Linked DNA regions of Homo sapiens: all the other regions are linked to region 3. Evidence: fine-mapped expression QTL. A gene starts in region 3. Each other region holds a variant in brackets. All regions are shown on one strand. Distances are from middle to middle. Region 1 overlaps ELOVL2 (ELOVL fatty acid elongase 2). Region 2 overlaps SYCP2L (synaptonemal complex protein 2 like). Region 3 holds the start of ELOVL2 (ELOVL fatty acid elongase 2).

The links. PIP is the estimated chance that this variant, and not a neighbour inherited with it, causes the effect. A credible set is the group of variants that fine-mapping cannot tell apart.
Region 1: its variant is the best candidate, but not a certain one, in a credible set for the expression of ELOVL2 in anterior cingulate cortex (GTEx, PIP 0.58).
Region 2: its variant is the best candidate, but not a certain one, in a credible set for the expression of ELOVL2 in lung (TOPMed, PIP 0.70).

The regions. Positions count from the first base shown.
Region 1 is chr6:11,002,420-11,013,209 of GRCh38, forward strand. It overlaps ELOVL2 (ELOVL fatty acid elongase 2), which reads right to left. Exons shown (of 8, transcript NM_017770.4): 2 at 8,327-8,390; 3 at 2,953-3,140. Among named protein-coding and RNA genes, the nearest start is that of ELOVL2-AS1, 36 kb to the right of the region's middle. The variant G/C (reference allele first, on the strand shown) is at 5,970.
Region 2 is chr6:10,970,757-10,981,546 of GRCh38, forward strand. SYCP2L (synaptonemal complex protein 2 like) reads left to right here. Exons shown (of 30, transcript NM_001040274.3): 30 at 3,196-3,553. It overlaps ELOVL2 (ELOVL fatty acid elongase 2), which reads right to left. Exons shown (of 8, transcript NM_017770.4): 8 at 10,003-10,790. Among named protein-coding and RNA genes, the nearest start is that of ELOVL2-AS1, 68 kb to the right of the region's middle. RefSeq lists an enhancer at 5,427-5,927. The variant C/T (reference allele first, on the strand shown) is at 5,543.
Region 3 is chr6:11,038,885-11,049,674 of GRCh38, forward strand. It overlaps ELOVL2 (ELOVL fatty acid elongase 2), which reads right to left and starts at 5,421. Exons shown (of 8, transcript NM_017770.4): 1 at 5,344-5,421. The coding sequence starts at 5,346. It overlaps ELOVL2-AS1 (ELOVL2 antisense RNA 1), which reads left to right and starts at 4,874. Exons shown (of 5, transcript NR_038964.1): 1 at 4,874-4,941; 2 at 9,025-9,115; 3 at 10,225-10,335. RefSeq lists a silencer at 5,317-5,516 and enhancers at 5,951-6,451, 6,452-6,952.

The sequences.
Region 1 (10,790 bases), 36 kb before region 3:
AAATCAGTGTGTCACCTGACTAGTATCTATTAAACATACCCCCAGAGTGTCAAAGAAGACCTTTTGCCTGCTCTGAAAGAGGTCACAATCAAAGAGAGGAGACTGGGTGGCAATCAATGGTAGTGATTTTGAACTGAACTAAGTGATTTTACACCTATACAAAGTTTAAGAGAAAGAGTGGGTAAGCAGTAGATAAAATCAGTGGTAGGCAATGGGCTCAGTGCAGATACGTTCTTCCTAGAAAGAAGACATTTACCTCGTTGTTCAACAACTAAACGGTTGTTCTTGCTCCTGTTGATGGTGACTACTGTTCAACTAGCACTTTACAATTCACAAAGCATTTTCACATTTACCAACTCCTACCCTGTACTAGTCCATAGGCTCTTCAAGTGTAGAAGCTGTGTCTTATCCATCTTATACCTTCAGGGCTTCCTATTCAGTGCCTAGGAAAAGCTCACTACATGCTGATTGAACAGAAGTCATCAATCCTTACAAGTCACTCAAGAGTTATATAGGAGAAATATTGTATCTCTGCCTTATAGATAAGTTGCCTAAGGTTTGGAAAGTCTAAGTTAAACTGCTGTAAAATTACACAGAAAGTGACAGAGCTAAAACAAACTTGTATCTTCTGACTCCATTACACCAAAGCTCCACCCAAACAGGTACTAGAACTGCTGGTGTGGTTGGACATGCAGGCTGGCCCTTCTGCTGCTGCTGTCACTTCTTTTTTATTTTACTTTAAATTCTGGGATACATGTGCAGAATGTGCAGGTTTGTTACATAGGTATACAAGTGCCATGGTGGTTTGCTGCACCTATCAACCCCTCATCTAGGTTTTAAGCCCCACATGCATTAGGTATTTGTCCCAGTGCTCTCCCTACCCTTGCTCCCCACCCCCCGACAGGCCCGGGCGTGTGATGTTCCCCTCCCTGTGTCCATGTGTTCTCATTGTTCAACTCCCACTTATAAGTGAGAACATGTGGTGTTTGGTTTTCTGTTCCTGTGTTAGTTTGCTGAGAATGATGGCTTCCAGTTTCATCTATGTCCCTGCAAAGGACATGAATCTCATTCTTTTTTATGGCTGCATAGTATTCCATGGTGTATATGTGCCACATTTTCTTTATCCAGTCTATCATTGATGGGCGTTTGGGTTGGTTCCAAGTCTTTGCTATTGTAAATAGTGTGCAGCTGTCACTTATGGAAAACAATCCAAGAGTATCTTGCCTTCTGCTATATAGAGAAACGAATCCCATAAATTACTATCTTGCTAACTCATCTAGGGAGCTAAAATTCAGCTAGTAGAGAACCTAAAATAAAAATGGTCCTTTCAGTGTCAAGTAGATTCGTGAGCACCTATGTGATATAATTTTAAGAGTTGTCAGCTGGGGGTGGCGGCTCACGCCTGTAATCCCAGCACTCTGGGAGGCCGAGGCGGGTGGATCACCTGAGGTCAGGAGTTCGAGACCAGCCTAACCAACATGGTGAATCCCCATCTCTACTAAAAAAAAAAAAAATTAGCCAGGATTGGTGGTGGGTGCCTGTAATCCCAGCCACTCGTGAGGCTGAGGCAAGACAATTGCTTGAACCCAGGAGGTGGAGGTTGCAGTGAGCTGAGATTGCGCCATTGCACTCCAGCCTGGGTGACACAGCAAGACTCTGCCTCAAAAAAAAAAAAAAGTTGTCAGCATGGCTTTTTTGACCCCAAAATTCCATCTCCTATACTGACTGATGCCTAAAATTCCATTATGAGAGCTTCATTCCAGTCATTTATGGTAATATTAATAGTTATTAAGAATGGTACATATTAGAATAATGCATAGAATAAACTCTCAAGAGAACTTTCATTTTAAGGCAAGGATTTGTTTTCTTTTAGAACTCAAGATCACCAGAAAGGCAGCTATATTTGTGCCATTATCCACCGCTTATAGCTTGTATGAATGATTTTATACAAGCTATAAAATCACTAAAAATTTTTGTTTTTGTTCTCTTTGTCCCTCTTTTTTTTTTTTTTTCTACAGCAAGTTATTTAACACTTTTAGATTTCCCCTTCCTTTACATTAAAATAACCTTGGTTGTACAGATGGGGCAATCATCCTTGTTCCTTCTCCTGTAAAATGACCTTGGTTTGGTGCTTCACAGAGGAATTTGGAGCACAGGATGTAACAAAGGGCCACTAGAGCTGAGCTAAAACGTCAGTGTTCCAAAGACATACAGAGTATTCTTTAAGGGAATATATATATTGGCATTTCAGTCAAACTAACTGCATATGATGTTTAAGTTAATTTTTAAAATACTCGGTTAATCACTGTCTACTCTCAGGCAAATTATGAAACTTTTCTAAGCCTCAGTATCCTAATCTGTAAAAGGAGAAAATTGTAACATGATCTTGAAAGGCCCATTTGATCTACATTGTGAATCTAAATTATAATTAGACTAGAGACTAAAGAAATAGGTCTAGGCCAGGCGCAGTGGCTCACACCTGTACTCCCAGCACTTTGGGAGGCCAAGACAGGAGGATCACCTGAGATCAGGAGTTCAAGACCAGCCTGGGCAACACAGTGAAACCCTGTCTGTACTAAAATTACAAAAAGTAGCCGGGCATGGTGGGGAGTACCTGTAATCCCAGCTATTCAGGAGGCTGAGGCACGAGAATCGCTTGAACCTGGGAGGCGGAGGCTGCAGTGAGCTGAGATTGTGCCATTGCCCTCCAGGCTGGATGATAGAGCGAGACTCCATCTCAAAAAAAAAAAGAAATAGGTCTAAATTGGGATAGAAAGATTCAAGTTATAAACAAGGACTTCCAGGATTTTCAGAAAGAATAATATCAAATGCTGGAATAAGTTTTTAGGTCTTAAAGTAACCTTGCATAGTTCTGCCAGGCTAGATGTGGTTGTTTCTGTTAATAAAAACTGCTAGTTACTGGACTTCAGCTTTGGCTACATAAACACTTACCTCTGCCAGCATGTACGCGGAGAGAAGTGTGATTCCAAGATTATACAAGGTGAGGATACCCCTGAGAGAAAGAGCAGGTCTGTTCTTCATATACTTGTTACCCAGCCATATTGAGAGCAGATACATGACAGTAAGAAAAAAGGTAGGAAGGTAAGAGTCCAACATGAACCACCCTCTGACTCGAGAATCTGAAAAGAAACACATACAGTGAGGATCCTGAGGAATGATGCTCCTGTTTAGTCATCAGTATTGTCACATACATTGCATTTGTACACACCAGCACAACAGGGAACAACTCCATACAACATTAGGTAGGCTGGCCTGGGTTTAGAGTTCAGGGGAAGAGGAAGCCTGTGGGCTGAATCGGTAAAGGTTTCATGGAGCAAACAGGGCTTAGGCTGAACACTGAATGAAAGGGACAAGAAGTAAAGGTGTGAAGTGACAGTTCTTGAATGCCTATTTTGGAACAGTTACTGCATTTATTTACTCTAAATTAATATGAAGTAAGTACTATTATGCAATTTTATGGATGGAAAAAAAAACAGCTCAGAAAGCTTTAGTAACTTTCAAAAGGCTACATCATAGTCGGCAGTACAGTCAGGATTTGAACCAGTCACATCTGCCTCCCAGCCCCATGATACCTTGCAGCTGTCCTCCCATGGAGAAGATCAGAGCAGTCAGAGGAAAGAAGGCATATCGATACTGTATCCTAATTCCTAAAGCCCACACAGCTCCGAATTTGCCTAGTATCAGTAATGGAAGGGGTTTAGAGTTCAGCTGGTTCAGAGAAAGCAATAGGATGACCGTGCAGCAAGCCTGGAGGCTGCAGACAGCAGAGGCAAAGCCTGGGAGCTGTGATTCAGAACTGAGGACCCAGATCTGGCCATGGGACTGGACGTTTACACAGCAGGGAGGCAAGCAGCTGAATACATCAGGGCCCCTTACACTGCAGAGTGAATATTTAAAAGCCTAAATGAAACCCACATGATAGAGCTACAATATAATTAGTAACACCTGAAAATCATTGTAGACACTAAATGATTTGTGTTCTCTATTCTGCTCTTTTTGTTTGTTTAAATAAAGAAAATGATTTGGCCCAGAATTATAAAAATTGCATGCTGCTTTTAACCTCCACAAATGGAGTTGTAGTGAGCTGGTTTCACCAACAGGCAATGGCCTTTTCTTGAATTTTTTGTTTTCTAAGTCCCTTTCTGGTGCATCCTACCCTGTATACCCCAGCCTCTTGTTAAACCACCCGCCCTACAGAGTACCATTTCTACAAGGCAAGTGCCTTCTGAAGCTCTGACTGTCCCATCACTTATTTTATAAATATCTCCCATTGGTGATAGAGATAAAAAGGTTAGAAAGCTCTTCTCAGCATTCATGTGACTAACAGATACCACCTTTCATACAGCAGGCTTGCAATCACCTGTCATAAGTCTGTGCTGTGTGTCACTTCCTAATGTCCATCTCCATATCTGAACCCTACTCATCTTTTAATGCCCAGATAAAGGTCCTGACTTCTGAAGGGAGACATTTCCTACTGTGTTTTCATATTTATAGCTCCTCATATGCATAGCAAGACAATTATTATCATTTTCTAATTCACATATTATTATGGCTATGATACTGTTACTATAACATTTACTGAGCACTTATTCTGTGCCAGGCACTATTCTGAAGGCTTTTACATGTATTAACTTATTTGATTCTCAAAGCAATCCCATTATATAGGTGATAATATCATCCCAGTTTACCCTTAAGAAAAATTGAGCTGTAGAGGCCTAGAAAAGTGAAATGACTTGCACTAAACTGCTACGCTACTTCTTGTTATGGTGTTAGACTGAATTGTGTCCCCCACGAAGATGCCTTCAAGTCCTAACTCCTGGTATCTGTGAATGTGACATTATTTGAAAATAGAGTCTTTGCAGATATAATATAGCTAAGATGAGGTTATACTGGATTAGGGTGGGCCCTAAGCCAATGACTAGTGTCCTTATAAGAAGGAGAGGTCTGAATACAAGGACAAAAGAGAAGACGGCCATGTGAAGAGGGAGGCAGAGATTGGAGTGATGCATCTCCAAGCTAAGGAACACCAGAGATTGCCACCAACCACCAGAAACTACGGGGAGTCATGGTACAGAATCTTCCCTAGAACCTCAGAGGGAACAAGGCTCTGCTGACACCTTGATTTCAGACTGTTGGCCTCCAGAATTGTGAAAGAATACATTTCTGCTATTTAAGCCACCCAGTTTGTGGCACTTTTTATGGCAGCCTAGGAAACAAACACACATGGTTTAGTATTTAATTGATTTCCAGTAGTTTCAGATGTGCTGGCTTTACCTCCCCAACTATAGTACATGCTCCAGGAGACAGCCACTAGGTCTTATATCTCTACTCTGTCTGACTCATACCCACGTAGTGCTGAGTTAAGAGGAAACATTCATTAAATGCATATCCATTGGCACATTGAGTCAAGCACATACTGCAAACTAATATAGCACCTGAGGTTTTTGTTTTCTTTTGTCACAGTGCTGTAAATGTTTGCTACAGTTGTTAAGGATAATCATAGTTGTTTTAGCCAAAAGATAGGAACAAATGCTTGTAATAAACTTTCTTATCTTTGGGACTTGAGAAGTGTTAGCTCTTCCTCTGAGTCAGTATTTGCTCAGAACAATACCCCTTGATGGTACTAACATGGTGTGGGCAAAATCAGAAGAGGCTAGGAGACACCGAGAGGTTTATTCGGTGATGTGCCAGTCAGCATCAGGGTGTGAGACTTTTAGGAAGAAAAAAGGATTCCTGATGGCTTACATGCTAGACACCTTGTCAGTGTGGAGCTCATCTGATTCCACTGTCAACTGTCAATTTTACAATCTCCTTGCTACAAAGGAAAATTCCATAAAATGACCAATGCAGAGTAAACAACTGTAATCCTTTCCTCAATTGATCCCACATCCACATAATTCCAGATCACGCCAATCTTACTGGCAGCAAAGCTCAGTGAACTTGGCGCA[G/C]ACAAGTTGTTGTTTAACTGTCTAGTCGAAGTGTCAAACAGAAAACCACTGTCACCAACAAATCATACTTCCTCCTGGATCTTGCATGCCTAAGCGAGAGTGCCCCCGGGGCCTGCATGCCTAACTAAGAGAGGGGGCTCCGGGTCCTGCATGCCTAACTAAGGGAGGGGGCTCTGGGTCCTGCATGCCTAAGGGAGGGGTCCCGGGTCCTGCATGCCTAAGGGAGAGGGTCATGCCCTCTACACTGAGCTGTTCTCCTTTCTACCCACTAGAACTGTAAGGGAGAGAACATAGTAAAAGTAGGTTAGAAGATAAAGATATTCTGCCCTGCCTACCCCACAGAGTCATCAGGAGGTTAAATGGAAAAAGCAAAAAAACCTATGTGAAAGGATTTTTTCAAAGCTGTATAGAATCAGTATCATTATATTAAAACTATATAGTCATGCATTTAGAACAGTTAATAGAGCCCATGGAGAAAATGGAGAATGGCCTAAATACTCAAGTGATTGTTTAAAGATCTTGAGAAACAGGAAAACCTCCTCATTCCTTGCTCTCTCACTCCTCCAATAGGGCTGAGGAAATAACTTGTAGAGAACTAAGGACTTTTCACAGTTCTGTGAGCCAATAAGGCTCAAGTAAAATGAAACCTTCTGTCTAGAATTCATTCATTTATTTGGAAAATATACAGTGCTGAATATGTTCCCAGAACTGTAATAAACCCTGGAGATAAATGGTGAGTAAAACAGCCAGGGTTCCTGCCCTTCTGGGAGAAATCGCTGTTGGTAACAATGAAGTATCTGAAGGAAGTAAACAAGGGTTGAAACAGAATGATGAGGGACCACAGCAGACCCCTCTGGATGCCTGAGCCTGCAGATACTCCCAAACCCTGTAGGTACCATGCTTTTTCCTGTACATATACACCTATGGAAAATTTATAAATTAGGCATAGTAAGAGATTATAACAATATACTATAATAAAAGTTATGTGAATGTGGTCATCTCTCTATCTGAAAATATCTTACTGTATTGTGCTCCCCTATTTTTGGACCATGGTTGACCACGGGTAACTGGAACTGCAGAAAGCGAAACTGCTGCTAAGGGGGGACTACTGTACCTTAGAGAGGCAAAGCCCAACTGAAAAGGCAACGTTTAAGCTGACACCTCAAGTGTGACAGGAACTGACTCATCTGGAGGGAGGGGTAGGAGATCCTAGGAAGGAATTCCAGGCTCAGGGAATAGCACGTAAAAGAATTTTACATATTTGCAGAATTAAAAGATGGCTTGAGCAGCTGTATGAAAGCCAGTGAGGACGACGGATACTGACTGAGTTGGAGAGGTTGCTGGGGTTAGACAGCCCAAGGGTGCGCAGTCCATGATAAGAAGTTTGGTTTTTACCTGAGAGCAGTGGGATGACACTGATGAGTTTTAAGCTACAGTGCCATGCAATATGACTTAGGTCTTTAGAATGTCATTCCAGCTGACACTGAATAAATGACTGGAAGGGGCAAGAGTGGAAGAGGGGAGGCCTGTTAGGAGGCCACTGCAGTACAGTAAGCGACTGGTGATGAAGGAAAGATGGAGAGATGTCTAAGCTCATCCTACCTACGGGCCCCGGGCAGAGAAAGCGCACACATCTTTTTTTTTTTTTTTTTTGAGACAGAGTCTCACTCTGTTGCCCAGGATGGAGTGTAGTGGCGCGATCTTGGCTCACTGCAAACTCTGCCTCCTGGGTTCAAGTGATTCTCCTGCCTCAGCCTCCTGAGTAGCTAGGATTACAGGCATAAGCCACTACGCCTGGCTAATTTTTGTAATTTTAGTAGAGACGGGGTTTCACCATGTTGGTCAGGCTGGTCTTGAACTCCTGACCTCATGATCCGCCCACCTCAGCCTCCCAAAGTGCTGGGATTACAGGCATGAGCCTCCACACCCAGCCAGCGCACACATCTTTAAAGGGAATTTATCAAGGCATCTAAGGGCAGAAATGTCACATATAACTAGGATGTAAGAAAGGTGGAAGATGAATGGGCAGTGGAGAGGAAACAAGAAAGCAGCATCCTTTAGAAGGAAAGTTACAACCCGGCTTTGTAGCCAGACAGACACTGGAGGAAAGCATTGCATTTCACTCTATCTCTGCTTCCTGCTCCCAGAACTTCTTTAATCCCAGGAGAGGTTAAGCAGTAGGAGAAATGGGATCTTCTGGACATTCTGGAAGGATATCAAAGTTGAGGAAGTTAAGTTTCTAAATATTAAGTACCTTACTATTTCCAAGACACCAGAAATAACATAATCCCTTTCTATAACTAAATGGTGTTCTTCCTGTGTTCCTTCCACATTAAGTTCTCAAGTAATTCACTGACCTCGCGGTCCAAACATATTGTCCAAAAAAGCATTGATTTCATCATCAAAGGCCTTTAGATGTTCCTAAAAAGAGAAAGAAAAAATGATTTAAGTGTTTTTTTCTTCTTTTTTTGAAACGGTCAAAACAAGCCACTACCAACAACATGTAACTGACAGACTTTCAAAGGGTCCCAGCTTCAAGGACTTTTGACTGCAAAGACTTAAGGAAAGAGGACAGTAAATGCATCCTCACCTTTCACAAGCCTATAAAGATTTGGAAGGAAACAATTCCTCTTATTTCCTTAGGCAAGAGGAGTCCTAGAGAACAGACTTGGTGCATTTAAACATTGAAGGGTTGGCCAGGCGCGGTGTCTCACACCTGTAATCGCAGCACTTTGGGAGGCTGAGGCAGGCGGATCACGAGGTCAGGAGATCGAGACCATCCTGGCTAACATGGTGAAACCCCATCTCTACTAAAAATACAAAAAAAATTAGCCAGGCATGGTGGCAGGCACCTGTAGTCCCAGCTACTCAGGAGGCTGAGGCAGAAGAATGGCGTGAACCCGAGAGGCAGAGCTTGCAGTGAGCCGAGATCACGCCACCTCACACCAGCCTGGGCGACAGAGTGAGACTCTGTCTCAAAAAAAAAAAAGAAAAAAAAACATTGAAGGGTTATTGACCTAAATTCCATTTACCTCTAAAATGCTTATAGGCAAAGCTGTTCCATAAGCAACTTCCCTTGTTACAATAACAGTTGTGGGTAGGCAATAGAGAACATCTGTTTCCACAAAATATATTCATAAATCCAGTTTTAAAATGAAAATTCAGGCTGAACTGTATTTCGTAAAACTGAATCTAAAACTTTAAGTAGGACTGTTTTTCAAGTAAGGAGCATTACAGCTATTTTTTCTATTTATGTTTTGTTTGTTTTCAAACTATTTCTTACACATTAACATCTACTTTATATTACTGTAAATAGTGCCACTTGGGTACACCCGATTAATTATTGTCACTTTCACTGGATTCAGGTGGGAGCCGGAATACTGCCAGCATGGTCTGCTCTCACGCTGCTCAAAATACCCGTTCAGGTATTTCCCAGCTCCGCCACAGAGGTCTACAGCACCTCCTCAAGCAACCAGAGGAGAAGTCAGAACATTACCAGTATTTCCAGGAAGGTGGGGCCAGCGGGTTGGTCCCTGACTGTGTGTGAGCTGAGCATGACAGCCTCGGGAAGTTGATATGGAGCATGCATTAGATTCAGCTCACTCTCAAAAAAAGTTGTAAGTGCCAAAACAGATGATTAATTTGCTGGCATCTGAAAAAGAGGAGCGGCATGTTTGCTGCCTGGCACATATCACTTGGACCTATTCCTTATTTGTGACTCTGATCCTGAGAGAAATTTCAAGGAAACGTATGTCTTCGGGAACTTTAGAAAGCTTGGGAAAGAGGATGAAGATGATGACTAACATTGACTGGCACCTACTATTGCTGGCCAGCATATAAGGAACTTTATCTTCATTATTTCATAATATCTTTATAAAAAATATCTGGGCTAAACCAAGCCTGAAAATTTTTAAACAGTATATTCATCTTTGTTTCCATGTAGGGCATCTCGGGAGGCCCCCGATGTGAGAAAGGTCAGTTACCTGAGATCTCAGTGTGACAGAATATGATCTGTGTTGCTTTAGAATGGGGGCGGCTGACCAGAGGCCTCTCAGTCTTGAGCAAAGAATGTTAATCTCACAAATGTACTCACCATCATAACAAATGCCAATGAAGTCTTTCTTCCATTGCTGCACCCACAAACAAATGTTTAAACTGTTTCAGCTTGTTTGCTAAGGTTCAAAATCCATTTTCCAACATTTGTAGAGCTAAGAAAACGCTAAAGGTCACAAAGCCCGTATTATTTCTATATTGCAAAAATTTAGTCACAGTGGAAGAAGGGCAGAAACAAAAGTAAAACAAGGGAAGATGTGGAGAACAGAAAAGGAAAGAGATGAATAAAAAGAGGCATTCCATTCCTTTATTCATTAATTTATTGATTCATTAACCAATTATTTGAGGATTTTATATACTAGCACTGTTATATGCTGAAAAATAAAGTCAAATGAGATGTGGTCCTTATCGTCACAGAGTTCTTAGTGGAGAGAGAGTAATACACAAATAAATAAAAAAATTGCAGTACCAGTGTCTTAAATATTATAAGAGATGTGCTATAAAGGATAGAGAAACATACTTTAATTTAGATCTCTTAAAAAGTAAAGCCTTCTTGGAAGAGATAATGCTGTGGCTGAATTTTGAAAGACTGGAGACATTTTCCAGATGGAGAAGGAAAGAAAGAACACATCAGAAAGAAAGATTAACATAGATAAAACACATTGAGGCATGACTCCCTTGGGAAATGTTTTTATGGCCAGGGTCTCTAGTGACCTATCTGACAGAGAGAACCACAGCCAATGCTGGGAAAATCAGAAACCTGATAAA
Region 2 (10,790 bases), 68 kb before region 3:
TAACTGGATATCTGAGACTGAAGCTCATGGCTGGGGGCTGGACATAGACTGGATAAGTTGACCTAGGGACTCAGTATAGAGAGGAAGCCCAGGACAACATTCTTGGGCTACTCCAGTGTGTTGAAGTCAGGTAGGGGAGATGAAGCCAGCAAGAGGATGAGAAGGAGTGACTAATGAGATAATCGGGCCATCACCCCCAGGCCTTTTGGCTAAGATCAAGTGTGGAGATAACTGGGCTGGGGGAAGGCGGTTACCGAGGATCAGAGTTTGCATGTATTTATGTACTTGCCTGTGAAGTAAGAGGTCTAGATTCTAAATGGATGTTCTAGAAATGTCAGCTGGGTTTATTTCTGTGTGGTGATATTTAAAGTAAATTTAATTTCTATCTTAGGCCATTCTGTGCTTTTACAACTTACTGAAAGATAGGGGGTCGGGCTCACACCTGTAATCCCAGCACTTTGGGAGGCCGAGGCAGGCAGATCATGAGGTCAGGAGATCGAGACCATCCTGGCTAACATGGTGAAACCCCATCTCTACTAAAAATACAAAAAATTAGCCGGGTGTGGTGGCACGAGGCTGTAGTCCAAGCTACTTGGGAAGCTGAGGCAGGAGAATCGCTTGAACCTGGGAGGCAGAGGTTGCAGTGAGCCGAGATCGTGCCACTGCATTCCAGCCTGGGCAAGACAGTGAGACTCTGTCTCAAAAAAAAAAAAAAAAAAGAAAGAAAGAAAGATAGGAGTTACTTTGTGAAACAAACAACATAAAAGTTTATAAAGAGTTAAATTTTTTGCTCTCTCCAGCCTTTCCTCTTATCCATGATCCAGAGACAACCACCTCTTGATAGTTGGGAGTATATTCTTCCAAAGATTATTGTGATGCTTACACAAGAATATATACAAATATTTACACATGTATACTTATATATGTTTTTGTTTTTGTTTTTTTGAGAAGGAGTTTCGCTCTTGTTGCCGAGGCTGGAGTGCAGTGGCACGATCTTAGCTCATTGCACCTCCTCCTCTGAGGTTCAAGCGATTCTCCTGCCTAAGAGGCTGGGATTACAGGTGCCTCCCACCACACCCGGCTAATTTTTTATATTTTTAGTAGACAGAGTGTGTCGCCATGTTGGCCAGGCTGGTCTTGAACTACTCACTTCAGGTGATCCACCCACTTTGGCCTCCCAAAGTGCTGGGATTACAGGCATAAGCCACTGCGCCCAGCCTATAAATATGTATTAATTGATTAATTGATATACTAAATATATATTATTAGTTCACTCAGCAATAAAAATAGGACTCGCCTCTTAGCAATACAAGATCTTATTTTTTAATAACTGCAAAATAGTTTATAAACATGCTATAACTTATATATTTTTCCCTATAATGGACATCCAGGTTATTTTTAATTATTATTCAAAAATTTGTAGTGAATATCTTTGTACACATACCTTGAATTACATTATTGAGGAAAAAAATACTGTTTTCTTTTGAGGAAATAGCAATAACAACAAATCTCCAAATCAAAATAAGACTAAAAGAGGATATTAAAAAAAGACTAATCTGGGCTAAGAATATTGGAATAATTCCCAGCTCCAATAGAGAATTGGATTAAATGTGAACTAAATGTGCATGTTACATTTGGTCACAAGTAACAGAAATTGGACTCTGGCGGCTAAACCAAATAGGGCTTTTACTTTTTTCCCTGTGAAGAGCAGCAGCGTAGTCCAGGGCTGGTGGTACAGCAGCTTTAAGTAGTCATTAGGGACCTGGGTTCTTTGAGCTTTTTGCTTTACCGTTCTTTTTGTGACTTGGGAATTTTATAATCACAGCATGGCTGTTGTACCTCTAGGTATCTTTTCTACACCCCAGGCAGGAAGAAGGAGTTGAGTAAAACTAAAAGGTAAAAGATGTATGCCAACATCCTCCCCTCTTTCGCTTTTTATTTATTTAGTCTATTTTGAGATGAGGCCTTGCTGTGTTGCCCAGGCTGGTCTTGAACTCCTGGGCTCAACTTATCCTCCTGTCTCAGCCTCCCAAAATGCTGAGATTATAGGCGTCTGCCACCATGCCCAGCTTCCTCCCCACTTTTTAAAATCAGGGAAACAGTTTTCCTGGAAGCCCAAGCTGATAGATTTTGTCTGCATCATAGTGGCCAGAACTAGGTCACATGGCTCACCCTAGTTGCAAGGGAATCCGGAGAGGTGAAAATTTGACTGAGTGTGTCACAGCACTCCCCAAAAGTGGGGGCTTCTGTTAATAAGGAAACAGGGGAGAATAGGTGTTAGATAGGTAACTAGTCATGTCTGTCATGCCTGAATTAAATTACACATGCTGCACACAGAAAAAAATGGAGAAATAACTTATATCGCTCAGGTGATTCTGCCATTCTTCTCAGTAGGCATGTGCCCTGGAGTTTGGGTGGGATGGGAGAATCTGTTCCCTCAGTTGATATCAGCTCCTACCAACCTCTTATTTATGAGCATCTAATTGGGCTGATAGGTGGGGCATGGTGGCTCACGCCTGTAATCCCAGCACTTTAGGAAGCCGAGGTGGGCGGATCACCTGAGGTGAGGAGTTTGAGACCAGCCTGGCCAATGTGGCGAAACCCCGTCTCTACTAAAAATACGAAAATTAGCTGGGCATGATGTTGCACGCCTGTAATTCCAGCTACTCAGGAAACTGAGGCAGGAGAATCACTTGAACCAGGAAGCAGAGGTTGCAGTAAGCCAAGATTGTGCCACTGCACTCCAGCCTTGCGACAGAGTGAGACTCCATCTCAAAATAATAATAATAATAATAGGTCTGATTGCCAATCTGGCTATTAACAACATGTAGTTTTCCTAGTGTGGCCCCTAAAGCCAGGCCACCCACTTCATCTGGTGCTATAACAGAGAAAGAGCTGTCTTATCTCCAACATCCAACAAAATCACCTGTTAGGTTAAACTATCGAGAGATGGCAGGTACATCTTCAGAGTGGCATGTGTTGAAGAGATTTCTGAGGATAACCAGGCAGTTTCTGCCGAGGACACTGACATGAGCTTTTGACAACCATGTAAGATGCTTCACTGAATACCTGAGTTAGTGAGATGTAGCGGATAAAAAGGAATGATGCTCCTATTGGCTCACAGGGTTCTTAGGGACTAAGAGGAGGACAGTTCGGCCTTGACTAATTACTGCTCTCCTTTTCCTTTTCTGCCAGCCTGGGCTGCCTGAAGACGAAGAGAAAGAGCAAGGTTATTGTTGGCTCAGGCCTTGTTAGCCAGACTTCGTGCTCTGTACGCATTCAATTTCCTCCCCTCCAAACATCATCCCTGGGAACTGCTGAGTTCAGATAGAATATATGTTGGTAGTTTGCAGTTGGGTTATTATCCATTTGTTCATAAAAATTAACCTTTTGTATTAAAATTTGGTCAGATAGTATTAATAGAAAGTTCAGGATGTTAAACAACTTGGAGTGGTGTTGCTTTTTTTTTATAAAAGTAAAATGGACTTTTTTTTGTTTGAGAAATGTCTTCAAGTTTTGTGTGAATAAAACACTTTAGCAGCATCTGTATAAATACAATTGGATGTGTCTCTTGGAAGGAGAAATTTGAGTTGAAGATGATGAAGGTAGCTCAGGTAAAAATGGTGGCTTTACATTTGTTTTAATTGATTAATTAATTTTTTTGAGACAGAGTCTCACTGTGTCACCCAGGCTGGAGTGCAGTGGCACGATCTCAGCTCACTGCAATGTCCGCCTCCCAAGTTCAAGCGATTCTCTGCCTCAGCCTCCCAAGTAGCTGGGATTATAGGCGTGTGCCACCACGGCTAGCTAATTTTTATATTTTTAGTAGAGACAGGGTTTCACCATCTTGGCCAGGCCGATCTTGAACTCTGGGCCTCGTGATCCACGCACCTTGGCCTGCTGAAGTGCTGGGATTACTGACATGAGCCACCGTGCCCAGCCTGTGATATGTTTTGAAAATAAACTTATTAGGAGGTCTCATTTGATCTGCAAATATTCTCATTTCTCCAGCACTTCAACAAAAGTGTCACCTTTAGCAGGGCAGAAATATTCATCATGTTGTTATTAATTACTAGATGCTCTAGTGAAGTTTGAGTGGATGAAATTGCACATACAGGTAAGCATTTGAATTTATTTTGGAAAAATGGAGCCTACATCATTTAAGGCCATCTACAAAGTACCTTTGTTCATGACTGGATAAGTGAAGTGAAAGACTGCAGACTGAATACTTTATTCACTATATAATAAAACTTAGTTACATTATGTAGGTTATTAATTTATAGTTTAATTTGTCTAAAACGTTTATAATTCCTATTTTGCCATCTTCTATATAATTTTTCTTTTTTGAGACGGAGTCTCGCTCATGTTGTCTAGTCTGAAGTGCAATGGCCCGATCTCGGCTCACTGCAACCTCCCCCTCCCAGGTTCAAGTGATTCGCCTGCCTCAGCCTCCCGAGTAGCTAGGATTACAGGCACACACCACCACAACTGGCTAATTTTTTGTATTTTTAGTAGAGATGGGGCTTCACCATCTTGGCCAGGCTGGTCTCAAACTCCTGACCTCAGGTGATCCGCCTGCCTTGGCCTCCCAAAGTGCTGGATTGCAGGCATGAGCCACCACACCCAGCCAAGAGCACTTATTTTTTAAGTCCAAAAAACATGAATGAGGTTAACTAACTTCATTTCGTTTAGGTATATCCAGTTCAGGGCTCACAGTTTCTCATGACCTGAGAGTGTATGGATTTCAGTGCCATTACATGGACTGTCTTCATTGAAGTACGTCTGAAGAATTTATATGACTTCCAGCACCTAGTGAGCATATATTTGAGCACTGTTCTCTACAAACCCTTGAGTAAGCTGATGTGGCAGATGTTAGGATGGATACGACGCTATCTTAGCTGCAAAGAACTTAGTCTAGAGAGGACAGTAAGACACCCAGGTCACTGTAAATCAAGGCTCTATGTGACAAGTGCCAAAATGAAGTGTAAAGTGATCACCATCGGGATTATGAGGAGGTAGAAGTCATTTTTGTTGGGGTGGCAGGATGGCTTCCTGGAGGAGAGGTATCACTTGAAATAGATCTTGAAGGATGAAGGAGTTTTTTTCTAGGATTAGGAAAGAGATGCTTTCATGAATATAAGAACAGAGAAGAAAAATGCAGAATTTGTTTGAGGCCATAATACTATGGAGTATTAGTGGGAATTAAATTTAGCTAGGCCCAAACTAAAGTGTCTTTACCAGCTTGATTAGAAGGACTTTATTCTGTAGGTGAGAAGAAGCCACTGAAGACATCAGGAGCACAGTGGTTTTGGAAGATTAATCTGGTAGCAATATGAAGGCTGCATTCAGTACACTGTGGGAGGTTACTGTTACAATAAACGCCTCAACTAAAATAGGACTGGGAATGAAAAAGAGGGGACAGAGATGAGAGGCTATGGTAGGTGTAAGATTTAAAGAGCTAATTTTGAGGATGGGTTGATGGAAGTTGCAAAAACCATGAGCTTGAGATATTGGGGACATCTCTTTGGAAATACTAGAGAGG[C/T]TCTACTGCACATTGTCTTCTTCAGCGAATCCTTATAGCACTTCCTGTGTGCCATGTGCTGTGCTGGGTGCCAAGGATTCAATGTGATTTTGCCCCTGCCTGCAAGGAGTGGCAGTCTAATGGGGAGACAGACATCAGTCCAACACTTAGACAGAGAAACAGGAAAACAGCCTGGGGAGTGCTGTGCCAGGTGGTGTGTGAGCTCCCCTGGCCTGAAAAGGCAGGGCGGGGTGGCAGGATGCAGGAATCGATGTGCTTTTCCAGGCAACACGGAGAGAAGGCTGGACCAGGAGGCATCCTGGAGATGCTGACATCCAGCCCTCGGGGAAGAAGAGCAGCGTCAGCTTCCTCACCCTGACCTTGGGGACTGAGCCAGCCTTTGGGCCCATTCCCAGCCCTACACTCAGGCTCCCTTCCTTTTTGACTCACTCGTAGCCGGGAACAGCCCTGTAGCTACCCCAGCAGACTCTGTTGCCATCTGTGGCCTCAGCCTCATTTGTCATTTTAGGTGTTCCTCTGTGCTCTGACCTTCCATCCTCCGAGCAGCTCCCCTGAGGATTTGCTTTGCCCTCAGGCAGCAGATGAACTCCTGGCTTTTGCACTTGGAACCTCAGCCAACCAGGCCTGCGTGAACCAACCTCCCCTCTTGACTCCTTCCCCAACCTTCTTCCTGTGACAGAGACCGAGGCCAGTTTTTTTGCAGGGTTCAGGGCTCTAGTAGACTGCTTTCAGGGGGATTTGCTAGAGGCCATAGATGACTATAGGGAAGGGTCTTCTTTCCTGTATCGTATTAAGTTTTTATTGAACTCTATGGTTTTAAGAACTTTTTAAATTTTAGATTCGGGGGTGTATGTGTAGGTTTGTTAAAGGGTATATTGTGTGATGCTGAGGTTTAGGCTTCTGTTGACCCTGTCACCCAGATAGTGAGCATAGTACCCAATAGGAAGGTTTTCAATTCCCCCACCCCTGCCTTTTGGAGTCCCCAGTGTCAATTGTTCCCCTTTTATGTCCATGTGCACTCAAGGTTTAGCTCCCACATATAAGTGAGAACATGCGGTATTTGGTTTTCTGCCCCTGCATTAATTTGCTTAGGATAATGGCCTCCAGCTGCTTCCATGTCACTGCAAAGGATATGATTTCATTCTTTTTTATGGCTGTGTAGTATTCCATGGTGTATATATACCACATTTTCTTTATCCAATCCACTGTTGATGGGCACCTGGGTTGATTCTGTGTCTTTGCTATTGTGGATAGTGCTGGATAAACATACAAATGCAGGTATCTTTTTGGTAGAACAATTTATTTTCCTTTGGGTAGATGATACCCAGTAGTGGGATTGCTGGGTTGAATGGTAATTCAGGTTTTCGTTCTTTGAGAAATCTCCAAACTGCTCTCCACAGGGGCTGAACTCATTTACATTCCCACCAACAGGGTATACGCATTCCCTTTTCTCTGCAGTCTCGCCAGCATGTTGTTGTGGGCATTTTTCCCTGTGGTGACAAAGGCACCTGAAGCATCCCCTGCCCCAGCCCCATGAGCTGAGCAAGGGGCCGGCTTCTTTCTTACTGCTTCCTCCTCCTCCATCTCAGCTGCAGTCACTCAGATGCTCCTGAAAGTATTCAACACATACACCCCTTAGCTCTTCCTCCCTTTCAGCAACTACTGTAACTGTTCCTTCACATCCCTAGTTCTTCAGAAGGATTTTCATATGGCTTGCTTCATCATTGTTTTTCTTCGACTTCCCATTCATTCTAAAGCCCCCTGTAATCTGCCAACTGCCTCCCAAGGGCCAAATTCAGTGCCTTCCCCCCCCACGCCTTCACTAGTTGCTCACCTTGCTGCCTTGCAGCGTTTTTCTCTGTTTAAATATTCTCTTTTTCCTTGGCTTCTGGGACACCACTTTCTTTGAAGTCTATTTGAACTCTTCACCCGTCAAAACTAACCTCAGGCATTACTTCCTTTAGGAATGTTTCTCTGGCAATATATATATATATATATATATATATATTTTTTTTTTTTTTTTTTTTTTTTTTTTGAGAGGGAGTCTTACTCTGTTGCCCAGGCTAGAGTGCAGTGGCGTGATCTCGGCTCACTGCAACCTCTGCCTCCCAGGTTCAAGTGATTCTCCTGCCTCAGCCTGCCAAGTAACTGGGATTACAGGCATGGCCACCACGCCTGGCTAATTTTTGTAGTTTTGGTAGAGACGAGAATTCACCATGTTGGCCAGGCTGGTCTCGAACTCCTGACCTCAGGTGATCTGCCCATCTTGGTCTCCCACAGTGCTGGGATTACAGGCGTGCGCCACTGTGCCCGGCCTCAATACTTATTTTATAGCTAAATGTTTATCTACTTTATTAGACTATGAACTCTGAGGACAGATATTTCATCTAGATCATTCTATATCCCTAACACGATACGTAGTGCTGGACAAGATTTGATGAATTTTTAGACTGAATATAACTATTTCCAGAGTTTATCAAACTCCATAGGTCTAAACTAGCTTGAAAAGAATAGGAGCTGGTTCTACATGAGCTGTCTTACGTACAGTGCTTCAGTCTCAGAGAAATCTGCAACATCTATCATTTGTTTCTAGGGCCACTGCCGGTAAGTCTGTGTTCATCTCCCTGTAAGTATATCATATGGGCCCAGGCGAAACTCTATATAGACTTTCTCCTTTTGTTGTTCAATGTATAGGCATCACAAATTCAAATGCCTTCAGGGGCCAGCCAGGTTAATAGGCTGAATAAAAAGGATGAATGGGCCGGGTGCCGTGGCTCACACCTGTAATCCTAGCACTTTGGGAGGCTGAGGTGGGCAGATCACCTGAGGTCAGGAGTTCGAGACCAGCCTGGCCAACATGGCAAAACCCTGTCTTTATTGAAAAAAAAAAAAAAAAATTAGCCGGGAGTGGTGGCACATGCCTGTAATCCCAGCTACTTGGGAGGCTGAGGCAGAGGTTGCAGTGAGCTGAGATCACACCATTGCATTCCAGCCTGGGCAACAAAGTGAGACTCTTGTCTCAAAAAAAAGAAAAAGAAAAAGGATGAGTGATGGTGATTGTGGCAACTACAAGAGAAAATGCCCATCTCAAGTCATCCAGGTAGCTATAGACCATGGCACATGCAACATCAAGGGATGTGTGACAAGCTTCGCCTTCCTCAGCCTACCAAATGTGGTCACAGACACTTTCAGAACAGGCTCCCGGTGGGTTGCTCGTTAGATCCACAATGACCGCATTTACCAATTGCTCAATGAGGGTACGGATTACAGATTTCCTTGTCCTCTCAGTGTTATTCCAGTGTTCTGCAGTGCAATTGAAGATGGAAAAATGACCTACAAATCAATAGCTTTCAGTCTTTTTCCCCCTATGACTGAAAGTCATGTTTTACTGAAGGTCAGGGAATCCTGAGGTGACTGTAGTTAGTCTCCTAGGAGTGATTATTTCCTTGCATACTCTGGAGAGAAACTCTTCCTTAAATATGGGAATGTAATTTTTCTTGGAAGAGAGCCTGCTGTAACAAAAACACATGCTGAATTTTTTCTTTGCATAAAGGAATTAAGAGGCTTATTGATGTGAACGCTTGTTGAATAAGCAGCTCTTTAAGTTTGTGACAACAGTTATTAGGCTTGCCATAGAGACATAGGATTTATCTTTTATTTTTAAACACAAAGTTTTATTAAGTTCCACCCACCATTTAAAATAACAAAGGGAAGGCTCCTCTAAAACGTTAACCTCCCACCCCAAACTCTAGCCCCCATTCAGATAGCTAAAATAAGGTCTTCTCCTATTCCCTCTTCTCCTCCTGCCCTTCCTTAAAATCTATCCTGTCCCACCTGTCACTATCCAGGAATTTAAGCAATTTTTTAATCAGACTTTGAGCACATCTTTTGTAGTTTTCTTTAGGATCTGTGTCTCATTATACTTAATATCACATTCAAAACTCGACTCTCTACACTGACAAAACGCCAACCTGTGGTCCTGCCCCTCGCCTCAACTCTCCCAGGCATCCTCACAGTCAGGCCTCACTCACCTACATCTCCTCCCGAGCTGAGCTGACCACCTCTCTCCCCATGCAGGTGCTCTGTGAATTGTATCCTGGGTTTCAGGGCATTGCACGATGTCGTTCCTGCCTAAAAATTTCTCCTCAAACAAATCTAGTGCTCCTCCCTAGGTGGCTTTATATAGCAATTTATTAATTATCGTCTTTATATCCTCTGCTAATCTTACGTTTTTCTAGTGAATGGCCATTTTTGAAACAGCTTAACTTGGTATATGAATACAATGTAAAGGTAATGATATAATCCATTGCTCACTGAAACAAGAGAAGAATTAAATGTCTAAAATTCATGGCTAAAATAATGCCTTATTGTAAAAATAACTCCCAAGTGATAGGTCATTTGGAATTCCATGCAGGCATACATTTTAACTGCTTTGAACCAAATAAAACTCGCAACATGCATTTAATGTAAAAATCAATTTATTATACAACAATCATAGATAATGCTTTTTATCTACAAAGAGAAATGGCTTCTGCAGCCTCCCTGTCTACTCCATTCATGATACTATGTTCTTAAGATATAATTACTTTCAAAGGAAAACAAAGCGATATCCATATTTTCCAAACAAGGAAGCCCCCAGACACATTTATGAACGATATGGAAATATTGGAAAGAACTCAAATGGACTCCTAGATACAAAAGGCTGTTCTGCCCATCACAGTAAACACTGTTTTGCCTTAAAATAAAAATAATAAAATATTTCTCAAATGCAGGGGTGAGGACTTTACCCCGTAACATGCCTAAGTGGTTCGATATATAATTTTGATGGCTTGACAATTGCTATGTTTAATTCCATTCAGTTAACATTCCATTTTGTTAGTTTAAAAAATTGGGGGAATTATTAATAGATATGCTTTACAGTATTTAAGTATTTTCATTCCCATGGGTCAGAGGAAATTTGAGAGAAAACATTCTCCATTTTTTTTAATAGATTATAGAAATATTAATTTTTCAATAGTTTTAGAAAAATCACATTAAAATAAGCATTTTGGTTTTTTGAAGTTACAACACTTAACGACAGGTTAAAATGTTTACCTGATTTATTTTTTGTGGCTAAGATTTCATAACTATTTTTTTAATTAGCCCTTGAATGGTTTAAGGCTATAAGTGTTTTATGAAGCATCTCTTGAATTGAAGACCAAATTGGAAATACACATCATGAATGAAACCTCTCTCTAGTCACTGGCAT
Region 3 (10,790 bases):
AAGTGCTATGTAAATTAGCAAACTGCTAGTTTTAAGTGCTGTGGAAAAAAAATAAAGCAGTGTAAGAGGATCAGGTGTGGTACATATCCAACTGTGTGTGTGAATATGGTGTGTGACATATGGTAAGGCAGGTTCCAGTTTTAGTAGAGTGGTTAGGGTAGGTCTAATCATGAAAGTATTAAGCAGACAGACATAAAGCTCTCTGGGGGAAAGATGTATACAGCCAAAGGGCAGCCAATGTAAAGATGCTGAGGCCCCATTTGATTCTAACAAAACAATCTTGTGACAGAGATAATACACCATTTAGCAAGTGAGTAAACAGTGTCTCAAAGCAACTTAAGCAAGGGAATGGAGCTAGTAAACAATAAAGCTAGGGCTAGAACCCAGGTTTCTTGACTCTTGGTCCAGTGCCTTTCGTTTTCTCCCTCTGTTCACCAGGCACACAGGAAGGTGCCCTGTTTCTTAGAAAGCACTGCATAAACATCAAGTTTCATTGCTATTGTGGTGGTGGTGGTGATTGTGATTATTAATCAGTTCCATGATATTTCTCTGTTACTATTTTTTAATTTATGCATCATAGTTGTACATATTCCCAGGGTACATGTGATGTTTTGGTACATGTATACAATGTAATGATCAAGTTAGGGTAACTGGAATATCTATCACTTCAAACATTTATCTTTTCTTATGTTAGAAATATTACAATTCTCATCTAGCTATTTTGAAACATAAAATAAATAGTCATATAATTTCTCTACTGTACTACAGACTACTAGAATCGATTCCCTCTGATATTTCCTGAAAGGAAAATAAAACTCAAAGAATGATTTCATCTTCCCTTCCCCTAGCTTATTTTTCTCCTTTATCTGTGCTTCTTTTCTTGAGTGGATCATTTTACTATCAGACTATCTGTGAAAGTAATTATACTTCTCTGGATATTTGACAAAGGAAAGGTATTAAGGGTAGGAATAACCTATAAAATAGAAACCATTTCTGACAACATGAAAAAGGGCTGAGGAAGGAATGGAGAGAATGTGGAGCCCAGTGATTCAGCGAGAGATATACATTTTCCAAGAGACAGGAAGTAAAAAAGTTAAAACAAAGAGTCTACAAAAGAGGAGATCTGTAGAAAAGGCAAAAATGGTGGAAAGGGGGCTCAAGGGGTGGAGGAAAGAGATTTTGAAATATTTTCAAGTAAAAATATGAGAATATTAGACAACAAACAATATAAAATAAAAAAGAGAATAAGAATCAGATTTCAGACACAGTAGACTGAAGAGCTGGTGGAATTACTAACAGCAAAAGAGAACAGAGAAGAGAGTCTGAAAGATGAGTAGCTTTCTTTTTGTAATGCTGGGTTTAAGGTGGCAGTGAGGTTCTCACTAGTGGAAAGGGTGTAAGAGCTTTAAGAGGTAAACTTGGAAGTTGTGTACAATCTAGAGCTCTTTGTCCAATACGGTAGCCTCTAACCACAGGTGGCCACTGAGCCGCTGAAATACGGCTAGCCTGAACTGAGATGCACTCTAAGCATAAAATACACACTAGATTTTGAAGATTTTCTATGAAAAAAAACAATGGAAAAATCTTTTTCTGCATTGATTACATGTTGAAATATTTGCATGGATTGGGTTAAATAACATTATTAAAACTAATTTCACTTGTCTCTGTACTTTTTAAATATGATTAGTAGAAAACTGAAAATTACATATGCGATTTATGTTATATTTCTATTGGACAGCAATATTAGTTGTATATTAAGACCACAAAAGGGACAGAGACATCATTCTGAAGTGTCTCAACTAAAATAGATATGGGAGAAAAAAGAACACACATCATTATAATAGTTAATATTTACTAAGCACTCCAAGCACTGTTTTAGACACATAAAGGGCACCATCATATTTGTTCCTCCCGAAAACCTTATGAAATATTATCATCTTTTACAGGATAAAATACTGAAGCCCAAGGTCACACAGTTAAATGCTGGTGTCAGGATTCAAGCCCACGAATGACCTCAGATCTCAGGTTCTAAACTGTCACATAAATTTCAGAACAAGTTATGCTCTCCAATTATTAAATGGTTAGATTTAAAATGTCATAAATTAACTATTTATTAGAATTGTTCATTGTCAAAGTCAGTTATGTCCCAATTCAATTAAGAAGAAAAGCTACAAATGCGTGAATCTGTAACTGTAGAATTACTATGAGCTACTGATGCTGGCGTATTTTCACCACATTGGGCCATTAAAGAAGTTTCTGGTGCAACTTCTTTCCCCTTATCAATGTCTACTCCCAGAAATGCAAACCTGTCAAGTTAGATGATACATATCCAACTGTCCAACCCAGACGATCATCCACCTAACCCTGAATAGCAGGGCCCTGTTTTCTGAACATAACTAGATACATAATATCTACTTGACACATTTTCAACATTCTCTTTCGGAACATGAAAGCACCTGAACCTCCCAAACTGACTAAAACGTTTTGAAGGAAACTAGATTAAATGGAACCCTTGTTGAAGAACCAAAAATTAGGCTTACCCAACTGGATACTTTAAAAATTGATTTTTTACTCCTTGAAAATGCTATACGTTCGAAGAATCGAAAGAGAAAAAGGCTGGATACTTTGGAATCCTAGGAATCCTAACAGTAAAATATCCTACAAATAGAAACTTAAGTCAATAAGGTATCTTTCATTCATCTTTGGTTGGTTCATTGGTTTTAATTTCAAAGACAAACTTATATTTCTTTCCTTTTTACCTTTAATTTCTACTACCTACCTGGGAAAGATGGTAACCACAGAACTGCTGAACTTACATAGTCATAGCTATAATTACATAATTTTCAAAAACTTATGTAAATTTTATTAAACAATTTGTTTCCAATTAATACATTTCTCCAGACTAATTTTTAAAAAACCAATGCCATAAATCCACATTATAGAAAAACAAAAGGAAATTTGAAAGAAAAAATATTTATTTTGGAATAATAAGACTAACTAGCAGAGATATCTTACAAGACAGTTCATATTGGACATGTATTGAAAAGGATGTCTCTCTGAACTGACCCACTAAGTTATTTATAAATTCAACCCCCTAACTTTCCTACTCCCTGCCCATTTTTTTTTTAAAGTAATACGATTTCAGCCGGGCATGGTGGCTCATGCCTTGTAATTCCAGCACTTTGGGAAGCCGAGGTGGGTGTTGATCACTTGAGGTCAGGAGTTAGAGACCAAACTGGACAACATGGTGAAACTCTGTCTCTACCAAAAATACACAGATTGGCCTGGTGTGGTGACGTGCGCCTGTAATCCCAGCTACTCAGGAGGCTGAGGCACGAGAATCACTTGAGCCCAGGAGGTGGAGGTTGCAGTGAGCCAAGATTGCATCACTGCATGCCAGCCTGGGTGACAGAGTGAGACCCTGCCACAAAAAAAGAAAGAAGAAAAAAGTAATACAATTTGGATTTGGGTATTAAAAAAAAATTCCTCTGAAGACCCACAGTTTCTGAGAAATACTTATCTAAACAGGAAGCATCACACTTGGGCAGGATAAAGCTTTCAAGAGCTTGCCCTTGATTTTAGCTCTTTTAGGTTAACATTCCCATGACTTTCCTATTCAGCTAAAGAGATTTCCTTGGACTTATTCCCTTACTCACTACAATTCCTACCTATACTTTAGGACAAAGCTTCAGAGCCCAAAAGGAGAGCCAGTTGGTCCTAAAAATGCTTTGTCCACTCTGATGCCAAGGTGCAAAGAGCATGAAGCGACAGACAAGGCATAAGAGATAGCCGCCTAGACTCGTCATTGAAGGCTGCCAAAATCGGGTCCCTCCTGTCGGGAGTATCTCCCTCCTCCCAAACTTCACTTGAGACTCTCATCATTACAAATGTCAACTGCATAATCTTTGCAGTTACTCCCCACCTGTGCATTAACATAAAGCAGCTTGCTTTATTGGGTTAATTCAAAAGAGTTATCAAGTACCTACTGTGCGCCAGGCACTGCTGTAGGTACTAGAAATCTAGCAAGCAATGAACGAAATGACAAAAATCTGTGTCTTCCTGAAACCTATATTCTGGTAGAGGAGACGTTCAAGAAACAAGCTAAAGAAACAAAATATGCAGTACGCTAACTAATACATGCTCAAGAGAAGACAAATGAAGCAGGCAAGGGGAATATACACTGTGGTGGGCGGGGTAGGAAAGGTTGGAATTTTAAGATTAAGTGGTCACACATAATCAGGCAGATGGTACGTGCCTAAAAGGGTAGCCAGAGCAAAATCAGATGGAGTGGGGAAGAGAAAGGAAGTGCGCTTATTTTAACAAGTCCTGAAGTGGAGAGAAAACCCTACGGGAAGGGGGTGAGGCAAACACTGAATATGGACCACTGAAGACAAACGCGGATTTCACATTTTGCCTAAAGACCAGTCCTTTGAGGATGGCACAACAGATGTTCTCCCTTTGTAACCAAAGAACCAGGCTCTGCTACTAAAACTGTCAGGCAGTTCATCGGACACGGGTGAACACACACACACACACACACACACACACAGCTTACTGTCAGGCAGTTCATCGGACACGGGTGAACACACACACACACACACACAGCTTACTGCCGAGGAGAAAGAAGCGTTACTAATCCAGAGTGGAGGACTGGCCTGGGAAATCGGGCAGAGAGAGGAGTTGTCGGAAAGAACACACCAGAAGCCCCTCCGAGCCCAGACACTGATAGAAACCCAGCCGCTTCCCAAGCCAATCTGCAAACCCAGGAGGCACCCACGAGTGCACAGACACACCCCCGGGGTGCAGGCGCGGTGAAGGGAGGAGAGGGGCAAGAGCTTGACCGTTAGGGCCCGAACCCCAGAACTCCCGAGGCAGGGTGTGTGCCGCGCGCGGGAAACGCCGTTCTCCGCTCCAGGCGTCGGCGGGCGGTGGCGAGAGCAGGTTCGGGGGTCCGGAGGGTCGGAGGGTGGGCTGCGCGCGGGAATGGCCGCCGCGAAGGAGGGGCGGCTTCCTCGGGCATCCCGGGCGCCCGGCCCCGTGCATGCAACAGGGGACTGGGCGCGAGCGGGCGCCTCGAGGTGCCGGGGCGGGACCGGGGAGAGGGGACCGAGACAAAGTTCCCGAGACCCGCGGGCCTCGGGCCGACCCGCGCGCCCCCGGCCCAAACGCTCAGCTCCCGCTCCCCAGGCCCGCGCGGACCCGGCCCCTCCGAGGGTAGCGGGTTCCAGCGGCGAACCCGCAGCGCCCGCGCCGGCGCCCGCTCGGCCCTTTCCCGCCCGGTGCGTGGGTCCAGGAGAGAAAGAAAGCGCGGCGGTGTCGGTGGCGGCGCGCGGCCCCACTCACCATGATCCGCAGCGGCTGTGGCGCGGCGACCCGGGCGGGCGGCGATGCGCTGTCCAGGGTAGCCGGGTCCCTCTGCCCGGCGCTATCTCGGCGCCCGCGCCGGTTACCCCCACCCACACCCACGCCCGGCGCGCGCACACCCGCCCGCGCCTCCCCGCCCCCTCGGGCTCGCGCCGCCGCCGCGCGGCGCTCCGAGCCTCGGGGCCGTTTCGTCCCCGCCCCCTCTCCCACAGGGGCCTCGCCGGCCGCCGCGCCAGGAGGGCGCGCGGGGGAGGGGCGCAGGGCAAGTGAGGCGGCGCCCCCCGCCCCTGCGGCCTCGCGCGCCCCCTCCTGGGCGACCGACCTCGCCCTCGCGTCCGCGGCGTCCCCTGCCGGCCGGGCGGCGATTTGCAGGTCCAGCCGGCGCCGGTTTCGCGCGGCGGCTCAACGTCCACGGAGCCCCAGGAATACCCACCCGCTGCCCAGATCGGCAGCCGCTGCTGCGGGGAGAAGCAGTATCGTGCAGGGCGGGCACGCTGGTCTTGCTTACAGTTGGGCTTCGGTGGGTTTGAAGCACACATTAGGGGGAAATGGCTCTGTTCCTGCAGGTTTGCGCAGTCTGGGTTTCTTAGGTTTAGGGGGTTGGGTGGGTTTCTCTGGGGGTGCGGTGGGAAGCGGATCAGTTCGGATAACGGCCCTGAGCAAGAGTCTCTGTCCCGCTCCCGGCCTGACGCGGGGCTTCCAGCGGACACGACCAACGGTGAGCGCACCCTCTTCACTGTGAACAGAACGGTGGCCTCCTAGAGCCTGCGCTTCTAGTTACTTTAGTTGTGTGTGTGGCCCAAGTGAAAGACGTCGAAAAAATTGGACTTGCCTGAGTATTACATGAACTTTCTTCCATTTCTCCCTCAAGCATGGGAAGTTGGCGGGCGTGGTGGTTCCCTCCTGTAATCCCAGCACTTTGGGAGGCTGAGGCAGGCGAATCACTTGAGGTCAGGAGTTCGGGACCAGCCTGGGCAACATGGCGAAACCCCGCCTCTTAAATAAAAAATACAAAAATTAGCTGGGTGTGGTGGCCTGCGCCTGTGATCCCAGCCACTCGGGAGGCTGAGGTGAAGGATGGCTTGAGCCCTGGAGGTGGAGGCTGCAGTGAGCCGAGATCACGCCACTGCACTCCAGCCTGGGCGACAGAATGAGACCCTGTCTCAAAAAAAAAAAAAAAAAAAAAAAATGTTTACCACATGTGAGGCTCATGTGGTAAACATGTTTATTGGGGTTGAGAGCAGCCCGTGTGGCTGTGCACGGAGGTACCTGCACCATACACTTAGCATCCCACACCTGGGGCGGTGTGGGAGCCCTTGCAGAGTTTTGTGCAGTAGCAGAGTGAGTAACTGTAGGTACCGGGGCTAAATCTTAACTGTCATACAATCACCTAATATATAGTTTCCTAATAGAGAGTTTTTCTTCCTAATATAGAATTTCTGTAGCTGAAGTGGTAAATATTAGGCATATATTTGTTTATAAAAGGCGGATGATTTTATGACCATAAACAGGTTAACCTAGTCTGATAAAAATCTCAGGAGTCAGCTCTGCCACATACTGGGTGTGTGGTATTGGGTTGGTTACCTAAACTGTCTATGCTCCAGTTTCCTGATTTACGAATTTGGGATAAAATAGCACTTAACATTACATGTAGCTGTTAGGGTTAAATTAATATGGGTAAAACTCTAGAAAAATATCTGGTACAAAAGTACTAGTTATTGATTTGTTATCAATTTGATGCATTTGAGAATCAGAAAGTGATATTCTATTTAATGCTGGCATATTTTTATAAAAAAGTGTGGCCCAAATCAAAGATACAATTTGATTTCAGCTTCACTTACTTTGTTCACTCAGCAAAGATTTCAGTGCCTACTATGTGCTAGGCGTTTTGGTAACAGCTAGGGTTACAGTGATGAAGAAAAACACAGTCCCTGCTGTTAGGAGTTTTTAGAACCTGTGATGATCTATATTATGATATTGAGAGACTTGAAGGAAATTCACACGAATAGTCCCCAAATATTGTTTTTCCTTGGAATGATTTTATTCTTTCTGTTTTACCTGTGTTCTTTCTTCTATTTGATACGTGTTATATTTGAAAGCTATAAAAGTAGCTTCCACGTCTTTTGGATATTGAATGATAAAAACTCTGGACCTGAATTTCACTGTATCACTAATCTGATGCAGTATAATGTGAATTCTTAATCTAGATAGTGATTTTTTGACATTATTGTGTATAAGTAGCACCAGAGGGTTTAATACTATACAGGGATACTTGAGATCCATCAAGATGACCTCAGGTACAGACCAAGAATATGAATTTTTTTTTGGTTTTGCTTTGGGTTTAATATTTGCTATCAGTTTCACATTGCGGGAGTATCTACTTCATTCCAGAGGCATCTCTGACCCTGCATAAAGTATAATGGACTCTCTATGGGTCTTGAAGTGGTGAAACCTCCATTTCTAAGGAATATGAATTTTGAACAAGCACCACAAATGATACTGGTGCAGCCAGGCAGTCCATGGATGATATTTTGAGAAACTAAATTCCATTATCCATTCAGGGAAAGCTTTAGTCTATTTTTCTAACAACATGAAGGGAAAAAACAATTTTAAGTGACAACCGACCTCTAAGAACCCTGCGGCTGTTGCTTGCAAAAATTGTATCATTGATGTCATCTAAACCTTGCAAAGCACACCAGGTAAACATGGGGAAGGAATTCTTAAACTTTGAATTATCCCTATACTTCCACATTACCATTTAGCCTGATAATCATTATTTTACCTTTATTCTCTAAAAATACACATCAACCCATAAGGCCAGAAGGAGATCTAAAAAGTCATCTATATCTTATCTGTTTCTTAAAATATTATTTTATGGCTTTCCTTATCACTACAACAAAGGAACAAATGAGACGGCAAATGCCAGAGGGTCTTTTTCCCCACCAATATTTTATTAAATAGAAAAAGGAAGTGGTGGCCAGGTGCGGTGGCTTATGCCTGTAATCCCAGCACTTTGGGAGGCCGAGGCAGGTGGATCACAAGGTCAGGAGTTTGAGGCCAGCCTGGCCAACATGGTGAAACCCCGTCTCTACTAAAAATATGAAAATTAGCTGGGCGTGGTGGCGGGCACCTGTAATCCCAGCTACTTGGGAGGCTGAGGCAAGAGAATTGTTTGAACCCAGGAGGCGGAGCTTGCAGTGAGCCGAGATAGCGCCATTGCACTCCAGCCTGGGTGACAGGGCAAGACTCCATCTCAAAAATAAATAAATTAATTAATTTTTTTAAAAAAGGAAGTGGTTCTACCTGTATAAACACAGGACTGGAAACATATCTTAACCAGATATAACTGGGAGAGGGTCTTAACTGGGTATAACATGAATTCCCACTTAATGGAAAATTTAACATGCCATCACTTACATGATTTTATAATATTTACTTTCGTTGTTCTCTTGTATGGATTACACAAAAGCTGGACTCTGTTTCTTAGCTGTACGGCAAGCCCATATTGAGCATGTGTACAATAACATAGACTAATTGTGTGTTAGGTACTTACATGGATGTGGTGCTATATAAAGTGATGATTAGCATAATCTAAGAATCTTAAACCTAAAAATAGAGATCTGACTGATGCTCTTTCTCTCCCTCTGTCACATATCGTAGATTTTATAGGTTCAGAAAGTGTGTCTCAGAGGAGTTAGAGAAGACCGATTAATAGATGACAGTGCTAAAGCCTGGATCTCCTGAATCCTGGGTGAGTATTCTCATTGTCTCTACTGCCTCTGCAGTGCTAGTCTGCCAGCCCTCATCAAAATTATGAAGTAGGCAAGCTTTGTTTTGGGGGGAGTTTAATCTCCTTTTAGTGTGGTTCTCTTCTGAAGCATCCCTTCTTTTGATATACCTAGCATCTTTGTGTTTTATCTTGAGAAAAATACTCACTTACAATGTATTATGACTTTAAATCAGTTTACTACATTTCTTCAAAGTATTTGTACTTTTAGGGTAGTAGTAGAAACAGACTCTGGAAATCACGTCCTTTCCTTGGCCATGGGCTCTGCTTTGTGTTAAGAAAGCTCTGCACCTATATGAGTTTAGAAATGAAAAATAGTAAGATAAAGAGTAAAGATTAAGCCCAAGTGAAGGCACATTGAAAAAACTGAGTTCCCTCCATCAAATTTAGTGCAGCTTTCACTCGATATGTTAGGACTAAGGATTTATGACAAAGCAATATATGTATATATTGGTCATTTGATTGGATGTAGTAACAAGGAGACAATCATGACCTTGTATCAATCCAGGTTTAAAATAAAGTTTATGTTAATTCATTTGAAAATATTATGCTGAGTACTATATTCTAGTATAACATTCTAGAGCAGAGGATGGCAAACTACAGTGGCAGGACAAATCCAGCCAGTTGCCTGCTTTTGTAAATAAAGTTTGTATTAGAATACCACTGTGTCCTTATGTTTACGTATTGTCTGTGGGTGCTCTCATGTTAGGACAGCAGAGTTGTGACACAACTGTATGGTCTGCAAGTCCCCACATAGCTACTATTTGGCCCTTTACAAGAAAAAGTGCCAATTTCTGTAGAACTTGGATGATATTAATATGGTATGGAACAATATAGGTGACTTCCCTTGTTTTATGAAGCTCATATTTCAACGAGAGGAAGAAGACAATAAGTCTAGATAGAGAAATGTCATGAAGAAACAGTATGATGATAGAGTGACTTGGGGGTAGCACTTTATTTTTCTAGGTTTTTGCTTTTTAAGTTTTTTATGTATTTTAATTTTTATATATTTAATGCATACAAGTACAGATTTCTTTTTTAATTATTATTATAATTTTTTATTTTACTTTAAGTTCTGGGATACATGTGCAGAATGTGCAGGTTTGTTAATAGGCATACGTGTGCCATGGTGGTTTGCTGCCCCTTCAACCCGTCATCTAGATTTTAAGCCCCGCATGCATTAGGTAGGTATTTGTTCTAATGTTCTCCCTTCCATCACCCCCCAACCCCGACAGATTTTGGTGTGTGATTTCTTATATGCATATATCGCATATTGGTGAAGTCTGGGCTTTTAGTGTACCCATCACTAAATAGTATACTACCTGATAGGTAATTTTTCAACCCTCCTAATTTTTCAACCTGTTAAAGTCACCAGTGCCATCCACGTTGCCGCAAATCACATGATTTCATTCTCTATGACTGACTGGTATTCCACGGTGTGTGTATGTATGTGCATGTATGTGTACACATTTTCTTAATCTAGTCCTCCATTGATGGACACTTAGGTTGATCCCATATCTTTGCTATTATGATTAGTGCTATGATGAACATACAAGTGCAGGTATCTTTTTGATATAATTATTTCTTTCCCTTTGGGTATATACCCAGTAGTGGGATTAAGGGATCAAATAGTAGTTCT